Homo sapiens: one gene and its partners. The protein of the gene in region 1 interacts with the protein of each later gene in a pairwise test. Each region holds a gene or a part of one and is shown in the gene's direction. Other genes may lie near its edges.

The links.
Region 2: the proteins of A1CF (region 1) and REL interact in binary tests that used the Homo sapiens proteins (3 or more experiments, as listed by UniProt).
Region 3: the proteins of A1CF (region 1) and EIF4G1 interact in binary tests that used the Homo sapiens proteins (3 or more experiments, as listed by UniProt).
Region 4: the proteins of A1CF (region 1) and METTL27 interact in binary tests that used the Homo sapiens proteins (3 or more experiments, as listed by UniProt).
Region 5: the proteins of A1CF (region 1) and POGZ interact in binary tests that used the Homo sapiens proteins (3 or more experiments, as listed by UniProt).
Region 6: the proteins of A1CF (region 1) and PLEKHG4 interact in binary tests that used the Homo sapiens proteins (3 or more experiments, as listed by UniProt).
Region 7: the proteins of A1CF (region 1) and ECM1 interact in binary tests that used the Homo sapiens proteins (3 or more experiments, as listed by UniProt).

Annotation. Positions count from the first base shown.
Region 1 is NC_000010.11:50,816,128-50,819,627, reverse strand, and holds part of A1CF (APOBEC1 complementation factor), read left to right. Parts: intron 1-3,348; coding exon 3,349-3,500. UniProt on the Homo sapiens protein: Essential component of the apolipoprotein B mRNA editing enzyme complex which is responsible for the postranscriptional editing of a CAA codon for Gln to a UAA codon for stop in APOB mRNA.
Region 2 is NC_000002.12:60,888,074-60,891,573, forward strand, and holds part of REL (proto-oncogene c-Rel), read left to right. Parts: intron 1-3,500. UniProt on the Homo sapiens protein: Proto-oncogene that may play a role in differentiation and lymphopoiesis.
Region 3 is NC_000003.12:184,317,606-184,321,105, forward strand, and holds part of EIF4G1 (eukaryotic translation initiation factor 4 gamma 1), read left to right. Parts: intron 1-111; coding exon 112-211; intron 212-2,083; coding exon 2,084-2,196; intron 2,197-2,657; exon of another isoform or gene 2,658-3,024; coding exon 3,025-3,117; intron 3,118-3,321; coding exon 3,322-3,388; intron 3,389-3,500.
Region 4 is NC_000007.14:73,836,804-73,839,516, reverse strand, and holds part of METTL27 (methyltransferase-like protein 27), read left to right. Parts: intron 1-479; exon of another isoform or gene 480-657; intron 658-2,713.
Region 5 is NC_000001.11:151,449,495-151,452,994, reverse strand, and holds part of POGZ (pogo transposable element with ZNF domain), read left to right. Parts: intron 1-2,046; exon of another isoform or gene 2,047-2,085; intron 2,086-3,500. UniProt on the Homo sapiens protein: Plays a role in mitotic cell cycle progression and is involved in kinetochore assembly and mitotic sister chromatid cohesion.
Region 6 is NC_000016.10:67,286,032-67,289,531, forward strand, and holds the end of PLEKHG4 (puratrophin-1), read left to right. Parts: intron 1-242; coding exon 243-332; intron 333-413; coding exon 414-635; intron 636-717; coding exon 718-888; intron 889-968; coding exon 969-1,146; intron 1,147-1,866; coding exon 1,867-1,983; intron 1,984-2,135; coding exon 2,136-2,369; intron 2,370-2,444; coding exon of another isoform or gene 2,445-2,457; coding exon 2,458-2,573; intron 2,574-2,771; coding exon 2,772-2,777; 3' UTR 2,778-3,449; downstream 3,450-3,500. UniProt on the Homo sapiens protein: Possible role in intracellular signaling and cytoskeleton dynamics at the Golgi.
Region 7 is NC_000001.11:150,511,109-150,514,289, forward strand, and holds the end of ECM1 (extracellular matrix protein 1 isoform 1 precursor), read left to right. Parts: coding exon 1-90; intron 91-348; coding exon 349-723; intron 724-1,243; coding exon 1,244-1,464; intron 1,465-1,616; coding exon 1,617-1,704; intron 1,705-2,128; coding exon 2,129-2,359; 3' UTR 2,360-2,681; downstream 2,682-3,181. UniProt on the Homo sapiens protein: Involved in endochondral bone formation as negative regulator of bone mineralization. Stimulates the proliferation of endothelial cells and promotes angiogenesis. Inhibits MMP9 proteolytic activity.

The DNA of each region.
Region 1 (3,500 bases):
ATCTGGCATCGGTCAGGGTCCCAAAAGAAAACAAATAGCAAAGGAATTAATTACAAAAGTGCGAGTGGGGACTAGGGAAATCAAAAAAGAGTGTCAGAATTTGGGGCTCACAGCATTCTGGAGTCAAAGGTACAAGGGGCTGGAGAATTAATAGAAATCCTGAAAGGGGAGAGAATTGTGTAGAGCAGATCTCTTTGCAAGAAGTTGCTGGGTGCAGTGGCTCGCACCTGTAATCTCAGCACTTTGGGAGGCTGAGGTAGAAGGATTGCTTGAGCCCAGGAGTGCAAGACCAGCCTGGACAAGATGGCAAGACCTCATCTCTACAAAAAATTAGCCGAGCATGGTAGCATGGACTACTACAGTAGTCCCAGCTACTCCGGGGGCTGAGGTGGGAGGATCTCTTGATCCCAGGAGGCTGAGGCTGCAGTGATCTATGATTGTGCCTTTGCACTCCAGCCTGGGCAACAGAGTGAGACCCCACCATTAAGGAAAGAAAGAAAAGAGAAAAGAAAGAAGCAGTGATTTTGGTCAAAGGACACAGTCAGCCCAAGGTGACCTCTCAAAGACGGGTCCAGCAGAATAAATGCCCCGAATTCACTGTTGTCTCTTCTCCAACCTCCTACCAGTGTTCCCCATTGGCTAAATGCAATCACAATCTAGAAGGCTAAAGAGGACCCCATGTAGAACAGCTTCCCAGAGCAGAGAGCAGGCTGGAGCTGGTAGGTGGTGAATTCCATAGGCAGTGGATCCAGATGGCAAAGGGAGGATCTCTTAGCCTAGGCCCTTCAGACACTGTGGAGCCTCTTGCATATTAGCTCCTCAGGGGCCCACTCAAACTCAAAAAGTTTGAATACTGGAGGGTGGGGTGGAGAAAGTATTCACTCTGAAATACAAAAAAGAAAACTGCAAAGAAAAACTAATGCATAAATACATGTCTATAAAGAAAAGCATTATTTCATCTTCATTGATGATCACATTTAGTATCATAAAAGTGTTATTACTTGGAAAACAATTTGTAAGTTAGATTTTCTCTATATGGAAACATTCCTGAGTATACATGATGATTGCTGGGAAGGAACAGCCATCACAAATTAAATGCCAAAAATTACGTTGGAATAATTACAATTGAAACATATTCAAATTCCCAATTTTTGCAGCTAGATATTTTTAGAGTAATTATTTACACATATTATTTAGTTAAATATATATTTAATATTATATTTGACTATAATGTGGTATGGAAAAATCAAAAGTAAGTTTTCCTAGGAACTATGAAGGTTTTTGAGCATATATAGAGATATTTATATTTAATTTGTTAGATGAAGTGAGATCTTGAAATTTTTTCTACGATAATTATCACATTTACAATTTAGGAAAATTAGCCTAGTAAGAACTGACTTTTTAATACAGGTGAGAGAAACATGTCATAGAAACTAGTTATAAAGCTATTATAGTCAACCAAATGGGACAAAATAAAGTCTTGAACTTAGGTAGGAATGGAATGTAGGAGACAGCCATATGCAGAACAGTAAGGGATAAATTCAAAGGACGCAGGAACTGATTGGAGATGGGGTGAAAAAGAAGGACAAGTCATTATAAGCTTCCAATATGGTAGGTTGTTATGAAAGTCAGGAAGGGAAGCCTATTCAGAGAGAAAAATGATGAATTGAGCTTCAGAATGATTATTCATTTATTCTTTTTGTAAGTCTATGAAGTGAAAGAAATTTTACTAAGCTTGGGCTATACAGATTAATAAGATATTGTCCTAGCTCTGGAAATATCTAAACCAAATAACTAAAATACAATATTGAATTTAAAATGCTTTTGGATGGGACAAAGGAAGGCAGAACAAAATTTGTTACAAGATATCTGAATTTGCCGCAAAGAATCATTCCATGCAAAACATCTCTTGATATGGAAGTGCCTATAAGCAGAGACCTATTTGGGTCTCTCATCTTCCTCAAGACTGGACTGAAGATATAAAGAATCTTATACCCAAGTTCCTCCCCTATTTTCAGTATGCCAGGTCTACTTTTTCTAATTACATCAACATCAATATAAGATTGTTGAATATCAGCTGGATTCTGTCTGTCTCTCAGAGTATTCCATCTAACTTATTTGACACTGGCTCCTGCTACTAAAAAGTAAGGTAAATACATAATACTGGGGACAAATTGACCAAGAGGCTGAACAAAATGGTCAGGATGACCATGAAGCACAAGCTTTGTCCAGCAGACTTCAATAATCCAGGAACCACTGAGTCACTGTTGAAATCAGAGGGTAAGGGTGCACACTCAGCTGCTGTGAATGGGAATTTCTGTAGAAACACTTTACATAAAAGTGTTCTTTATATAAAACAGAGGATCTTCACATTCTTATTCAAAAACAAAGCCACAAATGCTTTCAGACAATACTTTGTTCCTTTGATAATAAATACATCAATCTATCAAGAATTTCTTGAGAGCCATCATTGTTTATTGTGTAGGCAAGCAATACATAGAAGTTAGTAGCACACGTAGATCTACATACATCCATTATCTTTGACATCTGGAGCTGTTTGCAGTCTCAGAATTTGTGTCAGAATTCTTAAGGACAGGTTTTAAGCAGTGCATGATCTGAGAACCTCAATACTACTCTCACTCCCAACTACTCCTGACCCCTGTCATCCCTGTTTATTAGCTCCCAACTGTTCAGCAGATCAAAAGGTGGCTTCACAAGGAAGAACCTGTGGCAGGCAATGCAACAGCCTCCCAGATTCCTCTTCCTTTGGTAGAGCCACAGTATGTCTCTCTTCTCCAGTGAAAACTTACTTGTGTGGCTGCTCTAAGGAGCAAGACAGTTAGCGGGCTATCAGCTGGAAGGGCCTGATTTGGCTGCCCATGCTAAATGCTAATAATTGATAAGATTTCTTTATTGGTTTCCTTTCACCTTCATCTTATTGTGCAAGGTAATGGAGATTTTATACCATCCATAACAAACCTAAATTGTCTTGTAGTTATATAATTATATAAATATGTAATTTAAAACACATATATGACCTAATAAAAATATTACATAACTTTCTGTCTCAGTGACTGTAACCAGATTGTAAATTTATAATGAATATGTCAATGGACACTGGCCAATATGTCACTGTCAAACCTGTTGGCATCTTATGCAACTTACCAACAAAATGGCTCAGAAAAAGTTCAACTGGCATACAAAACAAACCTATAAAATGACAAGATACAATCAATAAACCTACAGCAAATAGTCTAACACTTAGAAGGAGTCATGTTATTAGGGCTCAGCCACACTTGGTTATCTTCATATCATCTCGCGTTGATATTTCTTTGCTCTCTACAACAGGTGCTGGATGGTTCCCCCATTGAAGTCACCCTAGCAAAACCAGTGGACAAGGACAGTTATGTTAGGTATACCCGAGGCACAGGTGGAAGGGGCACCATGCTGCAAGGAGAGTATACCTACTCTTTGGGCCAAGTTTATGATCCCACCACAAC
Region 2 (3,500 bases), on another chromosome or scaffold:
CCTGCCACCACATCCCGCTAATTTTTTGTATTTTTAGTAGAGATGGGGTTTCACCATGTTTTCCAGGCTGGTCTGGAACTCCTGACCTCAAGTGATCCACCCACTTTGGCCTCCCAAAGTGCTGGGATTACAGGTATGAGCCACCATGCCCAGCCTCAGTGAAATATTTGAATGCTCACTATGAACCTAGCAGTTTTATTCACACTCTCTCTTCCCAAAGTTAAACACTTATCATTAACGATGTCATTTTATATCAGTTTCCCACCAAGACACCTTTAAATAAGTAGTGGGCAGGGATTTATTTGGCCTTTACTTCAGCCACATAAATTATTTAAAATGTGACTTAAAAAGTAATGTTGATTTTAACAGTTTTTAAGAGGAAAATATACTTTCTTAAATACTCCTACAAGGATATATAAGGGTATGAAATATTTGAAATTGCAATGTGAATTTGAAATCTTTAAAATATGCAAGGATAAAATCGTGAAATACTCATCTGCATATCTTATGTTTTTGAGTAAAACTGAAATAAGGATTATGAACTTGTTTAGGTTAAAGTCAGTTTTCTCTGGCTCTTCATCTTCTGAATAAACAAATAGGTAGTAGATTCAAACACAGGGAGTTTACACCATACAGAATAAAATTGAAAGTTACAGTAATACTTTATTCAGTAACCCAAAGTAGAAGCCATGGAATCATCAATGATTCTTTAATTTCTGAGCTATCAGTGATTCTTTAATTTCTCTTAACCCTACTGTTCAGGCACCAGGTGCTGTCAATTTTATCTTTTAAATAATCCTTCATTCATCTTATCACTGCCATATATCAGAGATACCCTCATCATTGCCCACATTATTATAGTGGTCTCTAAACTGATGACATTGCTTTCTTTTTTCTATCTGTTCACTGTGACTAAAACTTTTACTCTAAAATGCAAATCTGATCATGTGATTTGCCTGCATCAAAATATTCATTGATTTCATCACACATAAAATGAAATCCACATTGCCAAGTGTGCTCTGACTTTTAGTTCTCTTTTTAAGAGAGAAAGTGTGTTCCATTTACATTGGTGATTCTTAAATAAACCCTCCTCTGTGGACACACTGTTCCCTTTTCCCTAGAATACCTACCTTTTTCCTCTTCATTTCCTCCGCTCTTTTGCTTCATTAACCGCTCTTTTTCCACTGACACAGTTGGGCATTCCTGACTCTTTCGCTCTTATTTCCGCAGAATTTTGTTAGTGCTTTCCTTCCTTCTGTAGTCTAATAATATATGTTGTTTGCCTTGCTCTTCTATAAGGTCCTTTAGAGTGACAGTTGGGATACCACCATAGTATCACTAAATCATTGTTTTCAAGAAAGCATCTGAAATAATAGACACCATTTTTTTTTATTTTTTATTTTTTTACACTTTAAGTTTTAGGGTACATGTACACATCGTGCGGCTTTGTTACATATGTATACATGTGCCATGTTGGTGTGCTGCACCCATTAACTTGTCATTTAACATTAGGTATATCTCCTAATGCTTTCCCTCCCCCCTTCCCCCACCCCACAACAGGCCCTGGTGTGTGATGTTCCCCTTCCTGTGTCCATGTGTTCTCATTGATCAATTCCCACCCATGAGTGAGAACATGCGGTGTTTGGTTTTTTTGTCCTCACGATAGTTTCCAGCTTCATCTATGTCCCTACAAAGGACATGAGCTTATCCTTTTTTATGGCTGCATAGTATTCCATGGTGTATATGTGCCACATTTTCTTAATCCAGTCTATCATTGTTGGACATTTGGGTTGGTTCCAAGTCTTTGCTATTGTGAAGAGTGCCGCAATAAACATACTTGTGCATGTGTCTTTATAGCAGCATGATTTATAATCTTTTGGGTATATACCCAGTAATGGGATGGCTGGGTAAAATGGTATTTCTAGTTCTAGATCCCTGAGGAATCGCCACACTGACTTCCACAATGGTTGAACTAGCTTACAGTCCCACCAACTGTGTAAAAGTGTTCCTATTTCTTCACATCCTCTCCAGCACCTGTTGTTTCCTGACTTTTTAATGATCGCCATTCTAACTGGTGTAAGATGGTATCTCATTGTGGTTTTGATTTGCATTTCTCTGATGGCCAGTGATGATGAGCATTTTTTCACGTAGACAACATTTATTGAATGTGTATGTATATATGACACTTCGTAAGAATTTAGCACATATAATCTGTCATCTTCACAACAACCCAATGAGGTAGGTGCTATTATGATTATTCCTATTTTACAGAGGAGGAAACTAAGAGATTTTTAATTTTAATCACATTTCCTTGGTCTTACTGTTAAGAAGTAGCTGGGGTAGGATTCTAAAGGCCTCTTCTCCATACTGTTCTGATAAGGCCCACTGTGTTACCATTTCTCAGGATTGCTTGCGTTCTAACAGGATAAGCCTTAGTCAGCACTAAAGTGATTAAGGGACACATTATTATTATTTTTTAATGGAAAACATCTTCACACCCCTATTAACTCCCCTACTTGCAAGTACAGTTGAGTGTCTATTTACCTTTTCCCCCACAATTTGGATAATAAAAGTAAAGTTGCATACATTTTAAATAGCTTTATTGACATATAATTTATGTACAACAAACTGTACTTTTAAAGTATGCAATTTGACAAGTTTTGACATATGTATACAACCCTGGAATCATCATCACAAGATAATGTCCCCCCTGCCTTTCCTATCCACCATATATCCCTGTTCTTAGGCAACCAGTGATCTGCTATCGTTCATTGTATATTACTTTACATATCCTAGGGTTTCATATAAATGGAATCATACAGTATGTGCTCTTCTGGTCTAACTTCTTTCACTCAGCATAATCATTTTGAGAGTCGTCCATGTTATTATATGTAGCAGCAGTTCATTCTGCAGATGCATATTTTGAATTTTAGTTATTATAGAAAGTGAATACTTTTTTTTCTCTATTATGTCTTTAGAAAAGGTTTGCATGGGACTGATTGCACATTCTTTGAGCCTAAAGTCCCTCCTGGGGCTTGTTTTGATATACTGTGTGTAAGTCCTTTAATATTTGAATGGAGATATAAAAAACTTACATATGCTTCTGCAAGGATTTAAATGCATTTTCATTTTCAGTGAATGGTCTTTTCATTCAGTATTATGAATATGATGTAAAATCAAGCAGTTAAATATATTTAACTCACTTTAGGAGTGTGATATTTTACTTCTGAATACTGCCTTCTTTACCCTTCTTGGGGAATCTTGGGGGAAACCCTTCTGCTAGGTCTCACGTGGGAGGCAGATATCTCTGAAGTGGTTATCTCAGAACTTCATATTGACGTTAGCTATAGATATTAAGCTATAAAGTGCTAACCAGTCAATATGGTTTGAATGACTTGTTTTGACACTACATAGGGACTCAATTTGAATGGGAAAAAAAGGTGCCTCTCCCAGCCAATCTCCAAGATAACATTTCGGTCTTGTTATTTAATGTTAGGAGG
Region 3 (3,500 bases), on another chromosome or scaffold:
GTCATTGCCCAGAGTTGGCTTGTCTTGTCTTGACCTATGTTCTTTTTGGAGTCTGATATGGAACTCATAGCTCCCTCAACTCCTTCTCTCCCTCTCCCCCTTCCCCACCAGGGGCGTTCCACATACGTTGTCCCGACACAGCAGTACCCTGTGCAGCCAGGAGCCCCAGGCTTCTATCCAGGTGCAAGCCCTACAGAATTTGGGACCTACGGTAAGCAGGGGAGGGAGTCAGAGGTGAGAACAAGCCCAAGGGAGCATCTAAACTCATCTGCTGATTTCTAAAGCAGAAGACCCTTCCCAGGCTTGGCTTCTGGTCTAAAAATGATAAGGTTAATAGGTGGTAGGGATTGGTGCTTAATATTTAACTGGTGTTGATTGTGGGGAGAAAATTTGATTTTATTGCCAGGAGAGTTAAGAGTCTTTCCCACATCAGGGAATGTAGGATCAGGCACCAGCCTGAGAGCCTATTAGTAGGCTTTCCCTGTGACACTTCTTCCATGGTTGGGAGCCCATGTAATGCAAATTTGGGAGGTTTTTGTAGCTATTTTTTATTTATGTTCTAGGGAAGGATTAGTCTGTTCTTTATGGCAGTGGCTTCCAAGTTTTTTGATCACCTATCAGGAAAAGTTTTGAGTATGAATCTCTCATACATGTATGTTTTTGTTTATATGTATGCAAAATTTAAACAAATACACTTGTGCTTGTCAAAAACAAGTGGAATTTAGGGATGAAATTAAAGAATGTGCCCGGATCTTGCTTGTAATCCCAGCACTTTGGGAGTCAGGAGGACTGCTTAAGGCCAGGAGTTTGAGACCAGCCTGGGAAACTTAGTGAGACCCTGTCTCTATTTTAAAATTTGAGGGGGGCTGAGCACGGTGGCTCACGCCTGTAGTCCCAGCACTTTGGGAGGCCAAGACAGGCGGATCACTTGAGGTCAGGTGTTCGAGACCAGCCTGGCCAACATAGTGAAGCTCCGTCTCTACTAAATTTTATTGTTATTATTTTAATTTTCTTTTTGAGACGGAGTCTCGCTCTGTCACCCAGGCTGGAATGTAGTCGCACAGTCTTGGCTCTCTGCAGCCTCCGCCTCTTGGGTTCAAGTGATTCTCCTGCCTCAGCCTCCCGAGTAGCTGGGATTACAGGCGTGTGCCACCACACCCAGCTAATTTTTGTGTTTTTAGTAGAGATGGTGTTTCATCATGTTGACCAGGCTGGTCTCGAACTCCTGGCCTCAAGTGATCCACCTGCCTCAGCCTCCCAAAGTGCTGAGATTATAGGCGTGAGCCACCACGCCTGGCCCTGTCTCAACTAAAAATACAAAAATTAGGCCTGGTGATGCACTCTTGTAATCCCAGCTATTCGGGAGGCTGAGGCAGGAGGATCGCTTGAACCCGGGATGTGGAGATTGCAGTGAACCAAGATTGTGCCACTGTATTCCAGCCTGGGCAATAGAGTGAGACTCCATCTCAAAAAAAAAAAAAAATTAAGGGGAAAAAAGAACTCACCCACTTTGGAGATAGTTTGCTTTAAGGAATTAATTTTTCTTCATCTTGAGCCTAGTTCATAATGTTACTTTGTTTCTTTGCCCCTTTGTAAAGGGCTGGAGACAGGAACTAGACTCAAGTTAAATGGAACAGGGTTGGCAGATCTCTTTCTCTCATTACCAGCCAAAGACCTGGTTCTGTTTCAGGTTCAGAGTATGTGTGTACATGTTGATAGCGGGTGGGGTACACACACGAGAGTAACTTGTACGGTGGAAGGACAGACATAAGTCCTCCTGGTCACTGGTGTGTGGTAGGAAAGAGTGCCTGCCTACGAGGGGTGTGTGTGTGTGTGTGTGTGTGTGTGTGTGTGTGTGTGTTTGTGTGTGTGTGTGTGTTAGGAATTCTTGTAAACGCAGTTCAGACTGGTTCCCCAGCTTTGACAGACACCTAATTCCCTGGGGGAGGAGGGCAGGGCAGGGCAAGGCAAGGGGCCGGCTGTGGGTGGTGAGAGGTTTTGGGGTGGGAGGTGTCAGGCAGGCATTAGTATATGGTTGGGCCCTGACGCTACCACCATTCTTCTCCGTCCCCCCTCCCCCAAGCTGGCGCCTACTATCCAGCCCAAGGGGTGCAGCAGTTTCCCACTGGCGTGGCCCCCACCCCAGTTTTGATGAACCAGCCACCCCAGATTGCTCCCAAGAGGGAGCGTAAGACGGTGAGTAGCAGTGAGGGGCTCCGGGACATCTGGGAAGGGGAGAATCAAGGTCAGGTGCTGCTGGGACATTGTGCCGGAAAGAGCAGTGACTTGAGGAGGAAGGAGCTGAGAGTGGGCAGAGAATGGTGTCTGTGGAGGGCTCAGGTTCTTTGTAAGATGCTAAGATTTCAGCATAGAAGCAGGTCATGGGAAGACTGAAGTGCCTAGCGAGGAAGTTCCTGCGAGACCTGGGTGCTGGGGGGTTGGAAGAACTATGCTTGGTTTTGGGTTTCTAGTGGCTTGCCTTGGAAATGGTTTGTTTTCTGTGGCCCCAGCCCCCATTCCCCCCTGCCCCCCCAGTCCTGGAAGCTCTCAAGGCCTCCGCCTCTGCTCAGTCCTCAAGCCCTGGGCGTGGTGCCCAGAATAGGGTGCCAGAGCTGGGGAAGCCGCTGAGTCACCCTGGCTCCACCTACTGGATCTGGGCCCTGCCCCCAGAGATCAGGCACACTAGCCACAAGTGAGCCGATTGGGTTCTAGATGGGGGTCCTGGGCCCCAGGGTGTGCAGCCACTGACTTGGGGACTGCTGGTGGGGTAGGGATGAGGGAGGGAGGGGCATTGTGATGTACAGGGCTGCTCTGTGAGATCAAGGGTCTCTTAAGGGTGGGAGCTGGGGCAGGGACTACGAGAGCAGCCAGATGGGCTGAAAGTGGAACTCAAGGGGTTTCTGGCACCTACCTACCTGCTTCCCGCTGGGGGGTGGGGAGTTGGCCCAGAGTCTTAAGATTGGGGCAGGGTGGAGAGGTGGGCTCTTCCTGCTTCCCACTCATCTTATAGCTTTCTTTCCCCAGATCCGAATTCGAGATCCAAACCAAGGAGGAAAGGATATCACAGAGGAGATCATGTCTGGGGCCCGCACTGCCTCCACACCCACCCCTCCCCAGGTACTGTCTGCTTTTCGAGTGATACCCTGGCTGGGATGTCTGTTCTGCCCTGGACTCCCAAGTCCCTGGATCTTTTCTTTCAACTAAGGGATTTATTTCCCTGCTTTCCTGGATTTCTAGGCAGAGCTAAAGTAGAAATGGCTCTAGTAAAGAAGGGTTGTGGGACTCTTCAGTGCAAACTTGGTAACCCTTTGTGTCCTGCAGACGGGAGGCGGTCTGGAGCCTCAAGCTAATGGGGAGACGCCCCAGGTTGCTGTCATTGTCCGGCCAGGTAAGTAAGCCGGTGGGACGGAGCTTTTATGGGGAAAGGGAATGTTAACAGTTAAATGCTGAGGTGGTGGAGTGACTTGAACTGGGTACCAGAGAATGATGACTTAGATTTC
Region 4 (2,713 bases), on another chromosome or scaffold:
TGTAAACTTTGCACATTGCGCTGCCCGGGCAGGTGTGTTTCCCGTCTCCTGCTGTGTTCTTGCTCAGCGCTTTGTTCTGCTCTGGGCAGAGGGCTCAGACCCTGCCCTCTGGGCCTTGATCTCCAACCCACTGGGGCCCAGGAAGGGGCCAGAGAGCACAGGGCCTGGTCAGAGGTGGCCCCACGAGAGCCGTGAGTGCTCACTGCTCCCAGAATTTATTTATTTATTTAATTTGAGACAGAGTCTTGCTCTGTCACCAAGGCTGGAGTACAGTGGCACAATCTCAGTTCACTGCAACCTTCACCTCCCAGGTTCAAGAGATTCTCCTGCCTCAGGCTCCCAAGTAGCTGGGATTACAGGAGCCCACCACCACACCCAGCTAATTTTTGTATTTTTAATAGAGATGGGGTTTCATCATGTTGGCCAGGCTGGTCTTGAACTCCTGACCTCAAGTGATCGCCCGCCTTGGCCTCTCACAGTGCTGGGATTATAGGCATGAGCCACTGTGCCTGGTCCTGCTCCATGAATGTAGAGAAGAGAGGCATTTCCAAGACCAGGTGAGGAATCCACATGGGGTGCACCCTAAGGCAGAAAGGAGAGGGGCTGAGCATGAGAACGAGGAGGCGCTGGCTGGCTGCAGGACAGGAAATCATAGAGGTAAAAATGCTTCCTCTCCCTCCCGTCTCTGCCAGGCCCAGCAGAGGCTGTGGCTAAGCCTGGGCAGGTCTGGGCAGGCATCTGGGGAGCCCTGAAGGCTGACAAATGCAGGGACACGGATGGGGTCAGCTGGAAAGGTCGAAGTTGGGCCCAAGAAGACAGGAACTTTCTACTGGGTGAAGCAGCCAGGATCGGACTTCCTAGCCCAACCTGTGCTTGCTAAGCCCTTCAGCCCCATCAGGCTGCCCATGGGTGACAGTCTCCCCTGCTCCGGAGCCTCTCCTCTCACTGCGCTCCCTTCTATCAGCAACACCCTGCTTCTCCTTACCCCCTCCTCCAGGAAACCTTCCCAGACCAGTCACTTGGGCTTCCCCATCTCTCCTTCTCAGTGCACTTGGGGCCACCCTGGGCACGCACACTATAGGTGCCTGGACCTGAGGTGACAAGGCCATTCAGCCGGCACTTACTGTAGGGCACTTCAAACACACATACCAGCCTTCCTGTGATGTTAGATAATCATCCTCTCTGTGCCAGCTGGGAAACTGAGGCCCAGAGAGGTGAAGGGATAGCCCAAGATCCAAAGCCCACATGGGAACTTTCTTCCTGTCCATTCAGACACAGTCACATCCTCCAGCAGAGGCGTGGGTGAGTGGTGAGTGGTGAGGAGGGTGTCTCCTCAATCCAGGAGAATTACGTCAAGAATTCCCCACCAGGCACAGTAGCTCACCCCCATAATCCCAGCACTTTGGGAAACCGAGGCAGGAGGATCCCTTGAGCCCAGGAGTTCAAGAGCAGCCTGGACAACATAGCAAGACCCCATCTCTACAAAAAAAAAATGTTTAATTAGCCAGGCGTGGTGGTGAGCACCTGTGGTCCCAGCTACTCAGGAGGCTGAGGTGGGAGGATTGCTTGAGCTCGTGAGTTGGAGGCTACAGTCAGCTATGATTGCTCTGCTGCACTCCAGCCTAGGAAATAGGGTGAGATCCTATCTCAAGAAAGAAAAAAAAGGGGGGGTGGGCAGGCACAGTGGCTCACGCTTATAATCCCCAGCGGGCAGATCACCTGAGGTCAAAAGTTCGAGACCAGCCTGGCCAACATGGCAAAACCCCATCTCTACAAAAAATACAAAATAGCCGGGCGTGGTGGCACGTGCCTGTAATCCCAGCTGCAAGGGAGGCTGAGACAGGAGAATCACTTGAACCCAGGAGGCGGAGGCTGAAGTGAGCCAAGAGCATGCCATTGCACTCCAGCCTGGGTGACAGAGCAAGACAGGGTCTCAAAAAAAAAGAAAGAAAGAAAAAGGAATTCCCAATGTAAAAGACACAGAAAGACTGCCCTGGGAAGGAAGCTGGAAGAATTTCTTTTTCTTTTTTTTTTTTTTTTTTATTGGAACATTAATTAGGTTTTATTTTCACTTTTTGTTTCCACAGTAACATGTATGGGATTAGGTTACAGTGTTTATTTGTCCCCAATCTTTTATTTATTTATTTATTTATTTATTTATTTATTTATTTTTAATTGATTGACTTTTTATTTTTTTTTATTTTTTTTAAATTTATTTATTTATTTATTTATTTTTTATTGATAATTCTTGGGTGTTTCTCACAGAGGGGGATTTGGCAGGGTCATAGGACAATAGTGGAGGGAAGGTCAGCAGCTAAACAAGTGAACAAAGGTCTCTGGTTTTCCTAGGCAGAGGACCCTGCGGCCTTCCGCAGTGTTTGTGTCCCTGGGTACTTGAGATTAGGGAGTGGTGATGACTCTTAACGAGCATGCTGCCTTCAAGCATCTGTTTAACAAAGCACATCTTGCACTGCCCTTAATCCATTCAACCCTGAGTGGACACAGCACATGTTTCAGAGAGCACAGGGTTGGGGGTAAGGTCATAGATCAACAGGATCCCAAGGCAGAAGAATTTTTCTTAGTACAGAACAAAATGAAAAGTCTCCCATGTCTACTTCTTTCTACACAGACACGGCAACCATCCGATTTCTCAATCTTTTCCCCACCTTTCCTGCCTTTCTATTCCACAAAGCCGCCATTGTCATCCTGGCTC
Region 5 (3,500 bases), on another chromosome or scaffold:
GCCAAGATCACTCCAGCCTGGGCAACTGAGCGAGACTCCATCACAAAAAGAAGAAAAAAGAAAAGGGTGAAAGAATTCTACAAGGAACACTTAAACTATCCACCACCTAGACAGAGTGACTTTTTTTTTTTAAGACAGAGTCTCGCTCTGTTGCCTAGACTAGAGTGCAGTGGCACAATCTTGGCTCACTGCAACCTCTGCCTCCCGAATTCAAGCGATTATCCTGCCTCAGCCTTCCGAGTAGCTGGGACTGCAGGCACCAGCCACCACGCATGGCTAATTTTTGTATTTTTAGTAGAGACGGGGTTTCACTGTGTTGGCCAGGCTGGTCTCGAACTCCTGTCCTTGTGATCCGCCTGCATTGGCCTCCCAAAGTGCTGGGATTACAGGCGTGAGCCACTGCGCCTGGTGACAGGATGATTTTTAATGTTTTGGCCCATGCCAAATATTTTTTGAAAGTTGGCATACTAGTATCTATAAGAAAATATCAAAATAGCCCACCTGTAGTGACAACTACTTGGGAGGCTGAGGCAGGAGGATCACCTGAGCCCAGGAGGTTGAGGCTGCAATAAGCCGTGATTGTGCCACTGCACTCCAGCCTGGGGGATAGAATGACACCCTGTCTCAAAAAAAAAAGCCAAATATCTATGTATTTGCTTAACCCCTTGAAAGTCACTTTCAAGATATTTCTATTAAATATTTTGTGCATTTCCTAGGAATAAATACATTCTCCTACATGAATATAATATGATTATCCTTTCTGTTTAAAAATTTTTTAGAGGGATCGGTTCTGTTTCCCAGATTGGTCTTGAACTCCTGACCTTAAGCAATCCTACCACCTTGGCCTGCCACCATGCCCGGCCAACATTGACTTTTTTTTTTTTTTTTTTTTTTTTTGAGACGGAGTCTTGCTCTTGTTGCCCAGGCTGGAGTGCAATTGCACCATCTCGGCTCACTGCAACCTCCACCTCCCGGGTTCAAGCAATTCTCCTGTCTCAGCCTCCTGAGTAGCTGGGATTACAGGTGCCCACCACCACGCCCGGCTAATTTTTGTATTTTTAGTAGAGACTGGGTTTCATCATATTGGTCAGGCTGGTCTCGAACTCCTGATCTGAGGTGATCCACCTGCCTTGGCCTCCCAAAGTGCTGGGATTACAGGCGTGAGCCACCGCGTCCAGCCGAACATTGACATTTTTAAAGAGACTTCTATTAGTTTTATAGAATGTTCCATATTCTGCATTTGATTATTTCCTTCTAGAATGTCCCACCTTCTGGATTTATCTCATTATTTCTTTGTGGTGATACTTAATTTGTTCTTTTATTGCTGTATTTCTTGTAAACGCAAAGTTACATTTAAATAATGGATTTGGGCCAGGCGCGGTGCCTCACACCTGTAATCCCAGCACTTTGGGAGACTGAGGCGGGTGGATCACCTGAGGTCAGGAGTTGAAGACCAGCCTGACCAACATGATGAAACCCCATCTCTACTAAAAGTACAAAATGAGCCAGGCATGGTAACGCATGCCTGTAATTACAGCTCCTTGAGAGGCTGAAGCAAGAGAATCGCTTGCACCCAGGAGGTGAAGGTTGCAGTGAGCTGAGATCGCGCCATTGGGCTCCAGCCTGGGCAACAAGAGTGAAACTCCATCTCAAAAAATTTAAAAAAAAATAAAATAAATAAATAATTGATTTGATTCAGGTTAAATATTATTGTCAGTAATACTTCATACATTGTTTTTGGCTTTTCTTGTGTATTTGTTTGCAAAAAAATGCCATAGACAAAACAGCTGATAACTAATGTGAATTATTAGTCAGTAGTTTATTGGTTAATGTTTTTCTTTTTTCTTTCCCTTTGAGGCAGTCTCCTGTCTCAGCCTCCTGAATAGCTGGGATTACAGGCGTGTGCCACCACACCTGGCTAATTTTTGTATTTTTTTTTTTTAGTAGAGACGGGGTTTCACCACATCTCTGGTCATGGTCATGGCCAGGCTGGTTTTGAACTCCTGACCTCAAGTGATCCACCCACCTCGGCCTCCCAAAGTGCTGGGATTACAGGCGTGAGCCACTGCACCGGTCCTGGCTAAGGTTTTTCTATTTAAACATATTACAATCATAACCTTTGGCTTTTGAGATACAGAGCTACTGTAACTTTTAAGTTCAACCATAAATAAGATTTTTGAGGAAGAACATAGAAATAGGTTTCCATTTTGTCACTTTGAGGCATTGCCCTCTGCAAAAATGATTTGAAAGTTGAAGAAGCTAGAAGAGTTTATATGTAGCAAAAGTAACCTGTAGAGGAATTGTAAAGGGGCCACAACAAGAAAAAATTTAGAACTGGGGAGGCTGGGCACGACTGCTCATGCCTGTAAAACCCAGCACTTTGGGAGACCAAGGCAAGCAGATCACTTGAGTCCTGAAGTTCAAGACCAGCCTGGGCAATATGGCAAAACTCTAGCTTTATAGAAAATACAAAAATTAACCAGGCGTGGTAGCACATGCCTGTAGTCCCAGCTACTTGGGAGGCTGAGACGGGAGGATTGCTTGAGCCCAAGAGGTCGAGGCTGCAGTGAGTTGAGATCGCGCCACTGCACTACAGCCCAGGCGACAAAGACCCTGTGACCTAAAAGTTGTCAGATGAATATGAAGATAAAATCAAGTTCCTGGCTGGGTGCTGTGGCTCATACTTGTAATCCCAGCACTTTGGGGAGGCCAAGGCAGGTGGATCACCTGAGGTCAGGAGTTCAAGACCAGCCTGGCCAATATGGTGAAAACCCATCTCTACTAAAAATACAAAAACTAGCCAGCCGTGGTGGTGGGCACCTGTAGTCCCAGCTACTTGGGAGACTGAAACAGGAGAATTACTTGTACCCGGTAGGCGGAGGTTGCAGTGAGCCGAGATCGTGCCTCTGCGCTGCAGCCTGGGTGACAGAGCAAGACTCCGTCTCAAAAAAAAAAAAAAAAAAAAAAAAAATCAAGTTTCACAGGTAGGTGATTATAGGATGAAACAGACTAGATATATATGGATTTTATAAAAAAATTTTTAACATACAAGATATAACCATTTGAATAATTCATAAGAACCTTGTTCTGCTCTCTTGCAGAGTTTTTGAGACGGAGTCTCGCACTGTCTCCCAGGCTGGAGTGCAGTGGTGCAGTCTGCAAGCTGCATCTCCCAGGTTCATGCCATTCTCCTGCCCCAGCCTCCCGAGTAGCTGGGATTACAGGCGGCCGCCACCACGCCTGGCTAATTTTTTGTATTTTTAATAGAGACGGGGTTTCACCGTGTTAGCCAGGATGGTCTTGATCTCCTGACCTCGTGATCCGCCCACCTCGGCCTCCCAAAGTGCTGGGATTACAGGCGTGAGCCACTGTGCCTGGCCTGAGAGGACAAATATTTTTAAAAAGAAATGATAGTTCTTTATGTATAGAATGTGGGATGATTTTTTTTTAATTGCCCTCGTTTTCAGAACATGTATTCAGTTTGATCAGTGATTTTCAGT
Region 6 (3,500 bases), on another chromosome or scaffold:
GGAGCTCAGTCTGAGGGCAAGGGGCTTCTTCCTTGGGGGCCTGTGGGCACACCCCCTTTGCCCAGTACTGTTCTTGCCAAATCACCCCTTGTTCAAAGCAGGGAAGACTGGGTCTGTAGGGGAGGCCTCCCTAAGAGGCATCTACTGGCATTTTGGTCCTCTCAAGCTGAGGGTGGTCTAGCCTGTGCCAGCCTTAGGGAGCTGGCCCCTTTGCACTGGGGCTGAGCCACATGTCCTTGTAGAGGGTGCAGTTTGGGATGTACGCGCTCTACAGCAAGAATAAGCCTCGCTCCGATGCCCTGATGTCAAGCTATGGGCACACCTTCTTCAAGGTAAGTGAACCTGAGATTAGGAGGAGTAGGGGATGCGGGGAGTGCCCCCAAACCACTCAGTGGCCTCCCATCCGCCCACAGGACAAGCAGCAAGCACTGGGGGACCACCTGGACCTGGCCTCCTACCTGCTAAAGCCCATCCAGCGCATGGGCAAGTACGCACTGCTGCTGCAGGAGCTGGCACGGGCCTGCGGGGGCCCCACGCAGGAGCTCAGTGCGCTGCGGGAGGCCCAGAGCCTTGTGCACTTCCAGCTGCGGCACGGAAACGACCTGCTGGCCATGGACGCCATCCAGGGCTGTGATGTGAGTCATCCCAGGGCAAGGGCAGTGGGTGTGAAGAAGAAGGCAGAAGAGGCTGGCCACCCACCAGCCCCCAACTCTGCAGGTTAACCTCAAGGAACAGGGGCAGCTGGTGCGACAGGATGAGTTTGTGGTGCGCACTGGGCGCCACAAGTCCGTGCGCCGCATCTTCCTTTTTGAGGAGCTGCTGCTCTTCAGCAAGCCTCGCCATGGGCCCACAGGGGTTGACACATTTGCCTACAAGCGCTCCTTCAAGGTAGGCCTGCCCACCCCAGGCCCCACCACTTGTTTTCCCGCCCCATGCCTTACCAAGCCCCTCTCTCCCGCTGGCCACAGATGGCAGACCTTGGTCTCACTGAGTGCTGTGGGAACAGCAACCTGCGCTTCGAGATCTGGTTCCGCCGCCGCAAGGCCAGGGACACCTTTGTGCTGCAGGCCTCCAGCCTGGCTATCAAGCAGGCCTGGACAGCTGACATCTCCCACCTGCTTTGGAGGCAGGCCGTCCACAACAAGGGTGGGTCCATGCCCCTCCTTCACGCCACACTCCCCTCACTGGAGAGCTTACATTGACCCACAGGAGCCCAGAGACCTGGGAAAAGCTCGGGAAGTGGGGAGAAGGCCCAGCGACAGCCACCAGTGCAGGAGAAAGGATTTCAAAGCCAGGCAGCCTTGCTGTCACTGCCTCTGACTTTGGACACAACGTGAACTTCTCTGAATATAAGGGGCATCATGGCTCTCTCTCTCTTTATTTTTGGAGACAGGGTCTCGCTCTGTCGCCCAGGATGGCGTGCAGTGGCATGATCTTTGCTCATTGTAGCCTCTGCCTCCTGAGCTCAAGCATTCTTCCCACCTAAGCCTCCCAAGTAGCTGAGACTACAGGCATGTGCCACCATGCCTAATTTGTAAAATTTTTTCATAGAGGTCTCATTATATTGCCCAGACTGGTCTTGAACTCCTGGGCTCAAACAATCCTCCTACCTCGGCCTCCCAAAGTGTTGGGATTACAGGCGTGAGCCACTGCGCCCAGCCAGGGGCCTCATCTTTAAAAGGGGAATATGGCACCTGCCCCACAGGATTGTTGGGAGGAGAGCACCTGGCACTAGAAAGGCTCAGCTCACAGGACAGTTAATGTGCTGGATGGAGGTGTACAGGAAAGACTTATCTGGGGGGTGGTAGAGGCCCAAGGACAGGCTTATGTCCAGAAGCATCCCACTTATGTCCACTCTCCACCCAGAGGTGCGCATGGCTGAGATGGTGTCCATGGGTGTGGGGAACAAGGCCTTCCGAGACATTGCTCCCAGCGAGGAAGCCATCAACGACCGCACCGTCAACTATGTCCTGAAGTGCCGAGGTAGCAGGCAGGCTACAGGGTGTGGGGGTGGGAGTAGGAAAGCTGTGCGGGAAGCACTGTGGCCCTCCATTAGTGCTGGCCCGCACTTTCCTTGGGATCTGGGGCCAGGCTAGGCTCTGGCCTGTCCCAACCTGACCCTCTCTCTTATGCAGAAGTTCGCTCTCGGGCGTCCATTGCCGTAGCCCCGTTTGACCATGACAGCCTCTACCTGGGGGCCTCGAACTCCCTTCCTGGAGACCCTGCCTCTTGCTCTGTTCTGGGGTCCCTCAACCTGCACCTGTACAGAGACCCAGCTCTTCTGGGTCTCCGCTGTCCCCTGTATCCCAGCTTCCCAGAGGAAGCAGCACTGGAGGCTGAGGCAGAGCTGGGCGGCCAGCCCTCTTTGAGTATGTCTGGGCCTAGCCAGAGGCAGGAGGGCATGGCTTGGGGTCTGGGGCTTCCCGTGCTGACAGTTCACCCAGTCTCCCTCCCTAGCTGCTGAGGACTCAGAGATCTCGTCCCAATGCCCATCAGCCAGTGGCTCCAGTGGCTCTGACAGCAGCTGTGTGTCAGGGCAGGCCCTGGGTAGGGGCCTGGAGGACTTACCCTGTGTGAGTGCCATTTGCCCTATACCCACCAGCCCTTCCCCAGCCCAAGCTGAGCCTGTGACTGTGACCAGCCCCTCCCCAGCCCAGGCTAGGCCTTTACTTTGGGTAGAGCTTGGGGTGGGTGGGCCAGAGCCATTCCCCAGACACCTCCTGGGTCCAGAGTCAGGGAAGCAGGCATTCATGCCTGGCCTGGCCCTGCAGGTCTGAGCCCGGGACTGGACGAGCAGTAGATCCAGCAGCCTGCAGCTCCAAGGAACATTGCCTCTCTGGATCTGCTGTGACCAGGGTGTGGCTGACACCTGGGCTACCTCCAACCTACATGTGCAACGCTGTTGACTACCCTTTCTGATGTGTGTGGCCATTGGACTAACTGGCACGGGGCCTCTCTAGGGAAGTCTGGTTGTAGAGCCTGAATAGGCTCCTGGCCCCATGACCCCTTCTCCTGTCCCCAGCTCCCATCCCAGTTGTGGGTTAAGAATAGGCTAGAGCAGACATTGGGTGTTTCCATGCTGTAGGCTGGTGGGGGACCATGTGCCTCTAGGCAGTGACTAGGGTGCCCCCACCCCTCAGGAAGAACACAGGTGGGCTCCTAGCAGCTGATCCCCAATGCCTGGCCTTAAAGCCGAGCTCAGTTACCATAGGGACAGGTCCACCTCTACTGGGCCCTCATGCTTGCCTTTCCTGGCCCCCAGGCCCAGCCCCTTTTTACTGGGGCAGTTTCGTTATTTTGACTTGATGCCTTTTGAATAACTTTCAATAGAATTGTCTAAAATTATCTTACTGGTTGTTAGGCCTTTGGTGTCTCAGAGAAGGAGTCTAGGTCTTTGATGTGTGATTTAATCTTTTATTTGTTTATAATAAAAAATAGACTGATATGTACCCTCTGATGGGCACATGCATTCTGGGCTATCTCCAATTAAAATGAGACTT
Region 7 (3,181 bases), on another chromosome or scaffold:
GGTGAGACCCTCAATTTCCTGGAGATTGGATATTCCCGCTGCTGCCACTGCCGCAGCCACACAAACCGCCTAGAGTGTGCCAAACTTGTGGTAAGGTTGGGTTCTTGATGCCGGGGGGTGTCCTTTAACCCCAGACAGTATGTGTGTTTTAAGGGTTAGAGCACTAGGCCTGGGTCTGGAGGAACCTCAGGTCCCGTTCACTGGCCCTACCCTGGGCCTCCCCAATGTGCCAGGGGAGCAGAGGACAACCACTGTCTCTTCTTTATCTGCCTGCCCAGTGTCCTTTCCTGGAGCCTGGGAGGAAGGCAGGAATGTGGAAAGTGGGCTGATCCTCCCCTCTTGCTCTAGTGGGAGGAAGCAATGAGCCGATTCTGTGAGGCCGAGTTCTCGGTCAAGACCCGACCCCACTGGTGCTGCACGCGGCAGGGGGAGGCTCGGTTCTCCTGCTTCCAGGAGGAAGCTCCCCAGCCACACTACCAGCTCCGGGCCTGCCCCAGCCATCAGCCTGATATTTCCTCGGGTCTTGAGCTGCCTTTCCCTCCTGGGGTGCCCACATTGGACAATATCAAGAACATCTGCCACCTGAGGCGCTTCCGCTCTGTGCCACGCAACCTGCCAGCTACTGACCCCCTACAAAGGGAGCTGCTGGCACTGATCCAGCTGGAGAGGGAGTTCCAGCGCTGCTGCCGCCAGGGGAACAATCACACCTGTACATGGAAGGCCGTAAGTGGGCGTCCCAGCCTCCCTGAGAGCCTGTTTGCCTGCCTGCCCATCTTCGACCTCTGATCCTGCCAGTCCATCCATCCATGTACCCCCCCTGCTGTGAGTGCGTCCACCCGTTCATCTGCTTGTGGCTGTCCGTCCATCCATTGTGTTTGTCACCTGAGTTTGTTCATCTTGAGCTTCGTACTACACTTCTGGCCTCCTCCACTCATGATCCACACACGCATCTGTCTACCATCCATCCATCCGTCCAGCTCTGGCCTCACCTGACCTTCTCCATCCACTGTTCCAGCTCATCTCCCGGCACCAGCTTGGAACCTCATCCAGGCTTCCACCCGTCCACCTTCCCAAGCCCACACATCAACAGTTGCCTCCTAACCCTCTACTTTTTTGCCATTCCCTTTGGGCCTCTCGGGCTGGGAGCCCCTCATCTAGTTGCCAGGGACGATAAGGGAAGTCGATGGTCAGGAGAGAAGGGGCCAAGTGTCCAGCTTCTGACTTCCCTCTCTCTGGTCCACAGTGGGAGGATACCCTTGACAAATACTGTGACCGGGAGTATGCTGTGAAGACCCACCACCACTTGTGTTGCCGCCACCCTCCCAGCCCTACTCGGGATGAGTGCTTTGCCCGTCGGGCTCCTTACCCCAACTATGACCGGGACATCTTGACCATTGACATCGGTCGAGTCACCCCCAACCTCATGGGCCACCTCTGTGGAAACCAAAGAGTTCTCACCAAGCAGTAAGTTGCCTAGTCCTTCCCCACTCTCTTCCTTTCCCGAAAACTTCCTTTTGGGACACCTTTGGGAAAAGCAAAATCATGATATCCCAACCCCATCTGATGCCAGAAGATGCCCAAAGACCCTAACCCCTGCCCCTTTCACACCAACATAGTAAACATATTCCTGGGCTGATCCACAACATGACTGCCCGCTGCTGTGACCTGCCATTTCCAGAACAGGCCTGCTGTGCAGAGGAGGAGGTGAGTGTGTGGAGTCTAGTCTCCAGAGGAATGCAGGGGAGGGGAGGGAAAGAGCTAGAACTGCAGGCCACCCCTTCTCTTTAGTACCTCAAACCAGCCTTTGGTTATAATGACTAGTGGGGGAGGTGTTTTTTTCTTGGTTCCAGAAAAGTCTTCACTCTGACCTGGCCTGCTCCCCATCTCTAAGTTCCTATTATGCCTTCTCCGGGCCACAAGCTTCTGGCATTTCCAGATGTACACATTTGTCAGTCACAAGGAATCCAGCTGTGCAAGGCAGTCTTGTACTCTCTCTGGGCCCCAGGAGGGGAACGAGGGAGAGAGCAGTAGAAGCTGATGAAAGGGGGACTTTGGCACCCAAGTATCTACATCTGTCCTTGGACCACCTCCCCACCCCATCATCTGTTTTACTTTTCTCATTCATCAGAAATTAACCTTCATCAATGATCTGTGTGGTCCCCGACGTAACATCTGGCGAGACCCTGCCCTCTGCTGTTACCTGAGTCCTGGGGATGAACAGGTCAACTGCTTCAACATCAATTATCTGAGGAACGTGGCTCTAGTGTCTGGAGACACTGAGAACGCCAAGGGCCAGGGGGAGCAGGGCTCAACTGGAGGAACAAATATCAGCTCCACCTCTGAGCCCAAGGAAGAATGAGTCACCCCAGAGCCCTAGAGGGTCAGATGGGGGGAACCCCACCCTGCCCCACCCATCTGAACACTCATTACACTAAACACCTCTTGGATTTGGTGTCCTCATTGTCTATCTAATGTCTCACCCGCAGTGTTTTAAGTGGATCTTGGTGCCCTGGCCCAGGAGGGCACTGGCGTTTTCAGACACACCACAGACAAACACACCCTCCTAAGCCTGCTTGTATTTCCTTCAGTGCCTGGCCCCTGAGGCCCACGGCCCTGCCCCCTTCACTGAGCAGATGTTCACAGGCTGTGGGATGCGACCATAACTAAACAGCTTGACGTCACTTTGCCATCTTGAATTTATTCACATATTTTGAAAGGAGTGCCACCTTGTTAGCTAGCTATCAGGACTCAAAGAAGATATGGTTCTTGGCCTTGGTGAGCCCCCAAAATGCCACAGCCCAGCCTAACATTTTTAAAGCTTCACTTTTGATCCTTAGAATTCATGCCTTCATTCATTCAATATCCTTTTTTTTTTTTTCTTGAGACACAGTCTCGCTCTATCGCCCAGGCTGAAGTGCAGTGGCACGATCTTGGCTCACTGCAACTTGCAACCCTCCTGGGTTCAAGCGATTCTCCTGCCTCAGCCTCCCGAGTAGCTGGGATTACAGGCGTGCACCAGCACACCCAGCTAATTTTTGTATTTTTAGTAGAGACGGGTTTTCACCATGTTGGCCAGGCTCCCAAAGTGCTGGGATTACAGGCGTGAGCCACTGTGCCTGGCCAATATCCATTTATTGAACCCCTATCTATGCACACTCTGCTAGACTTGGGGATACACATC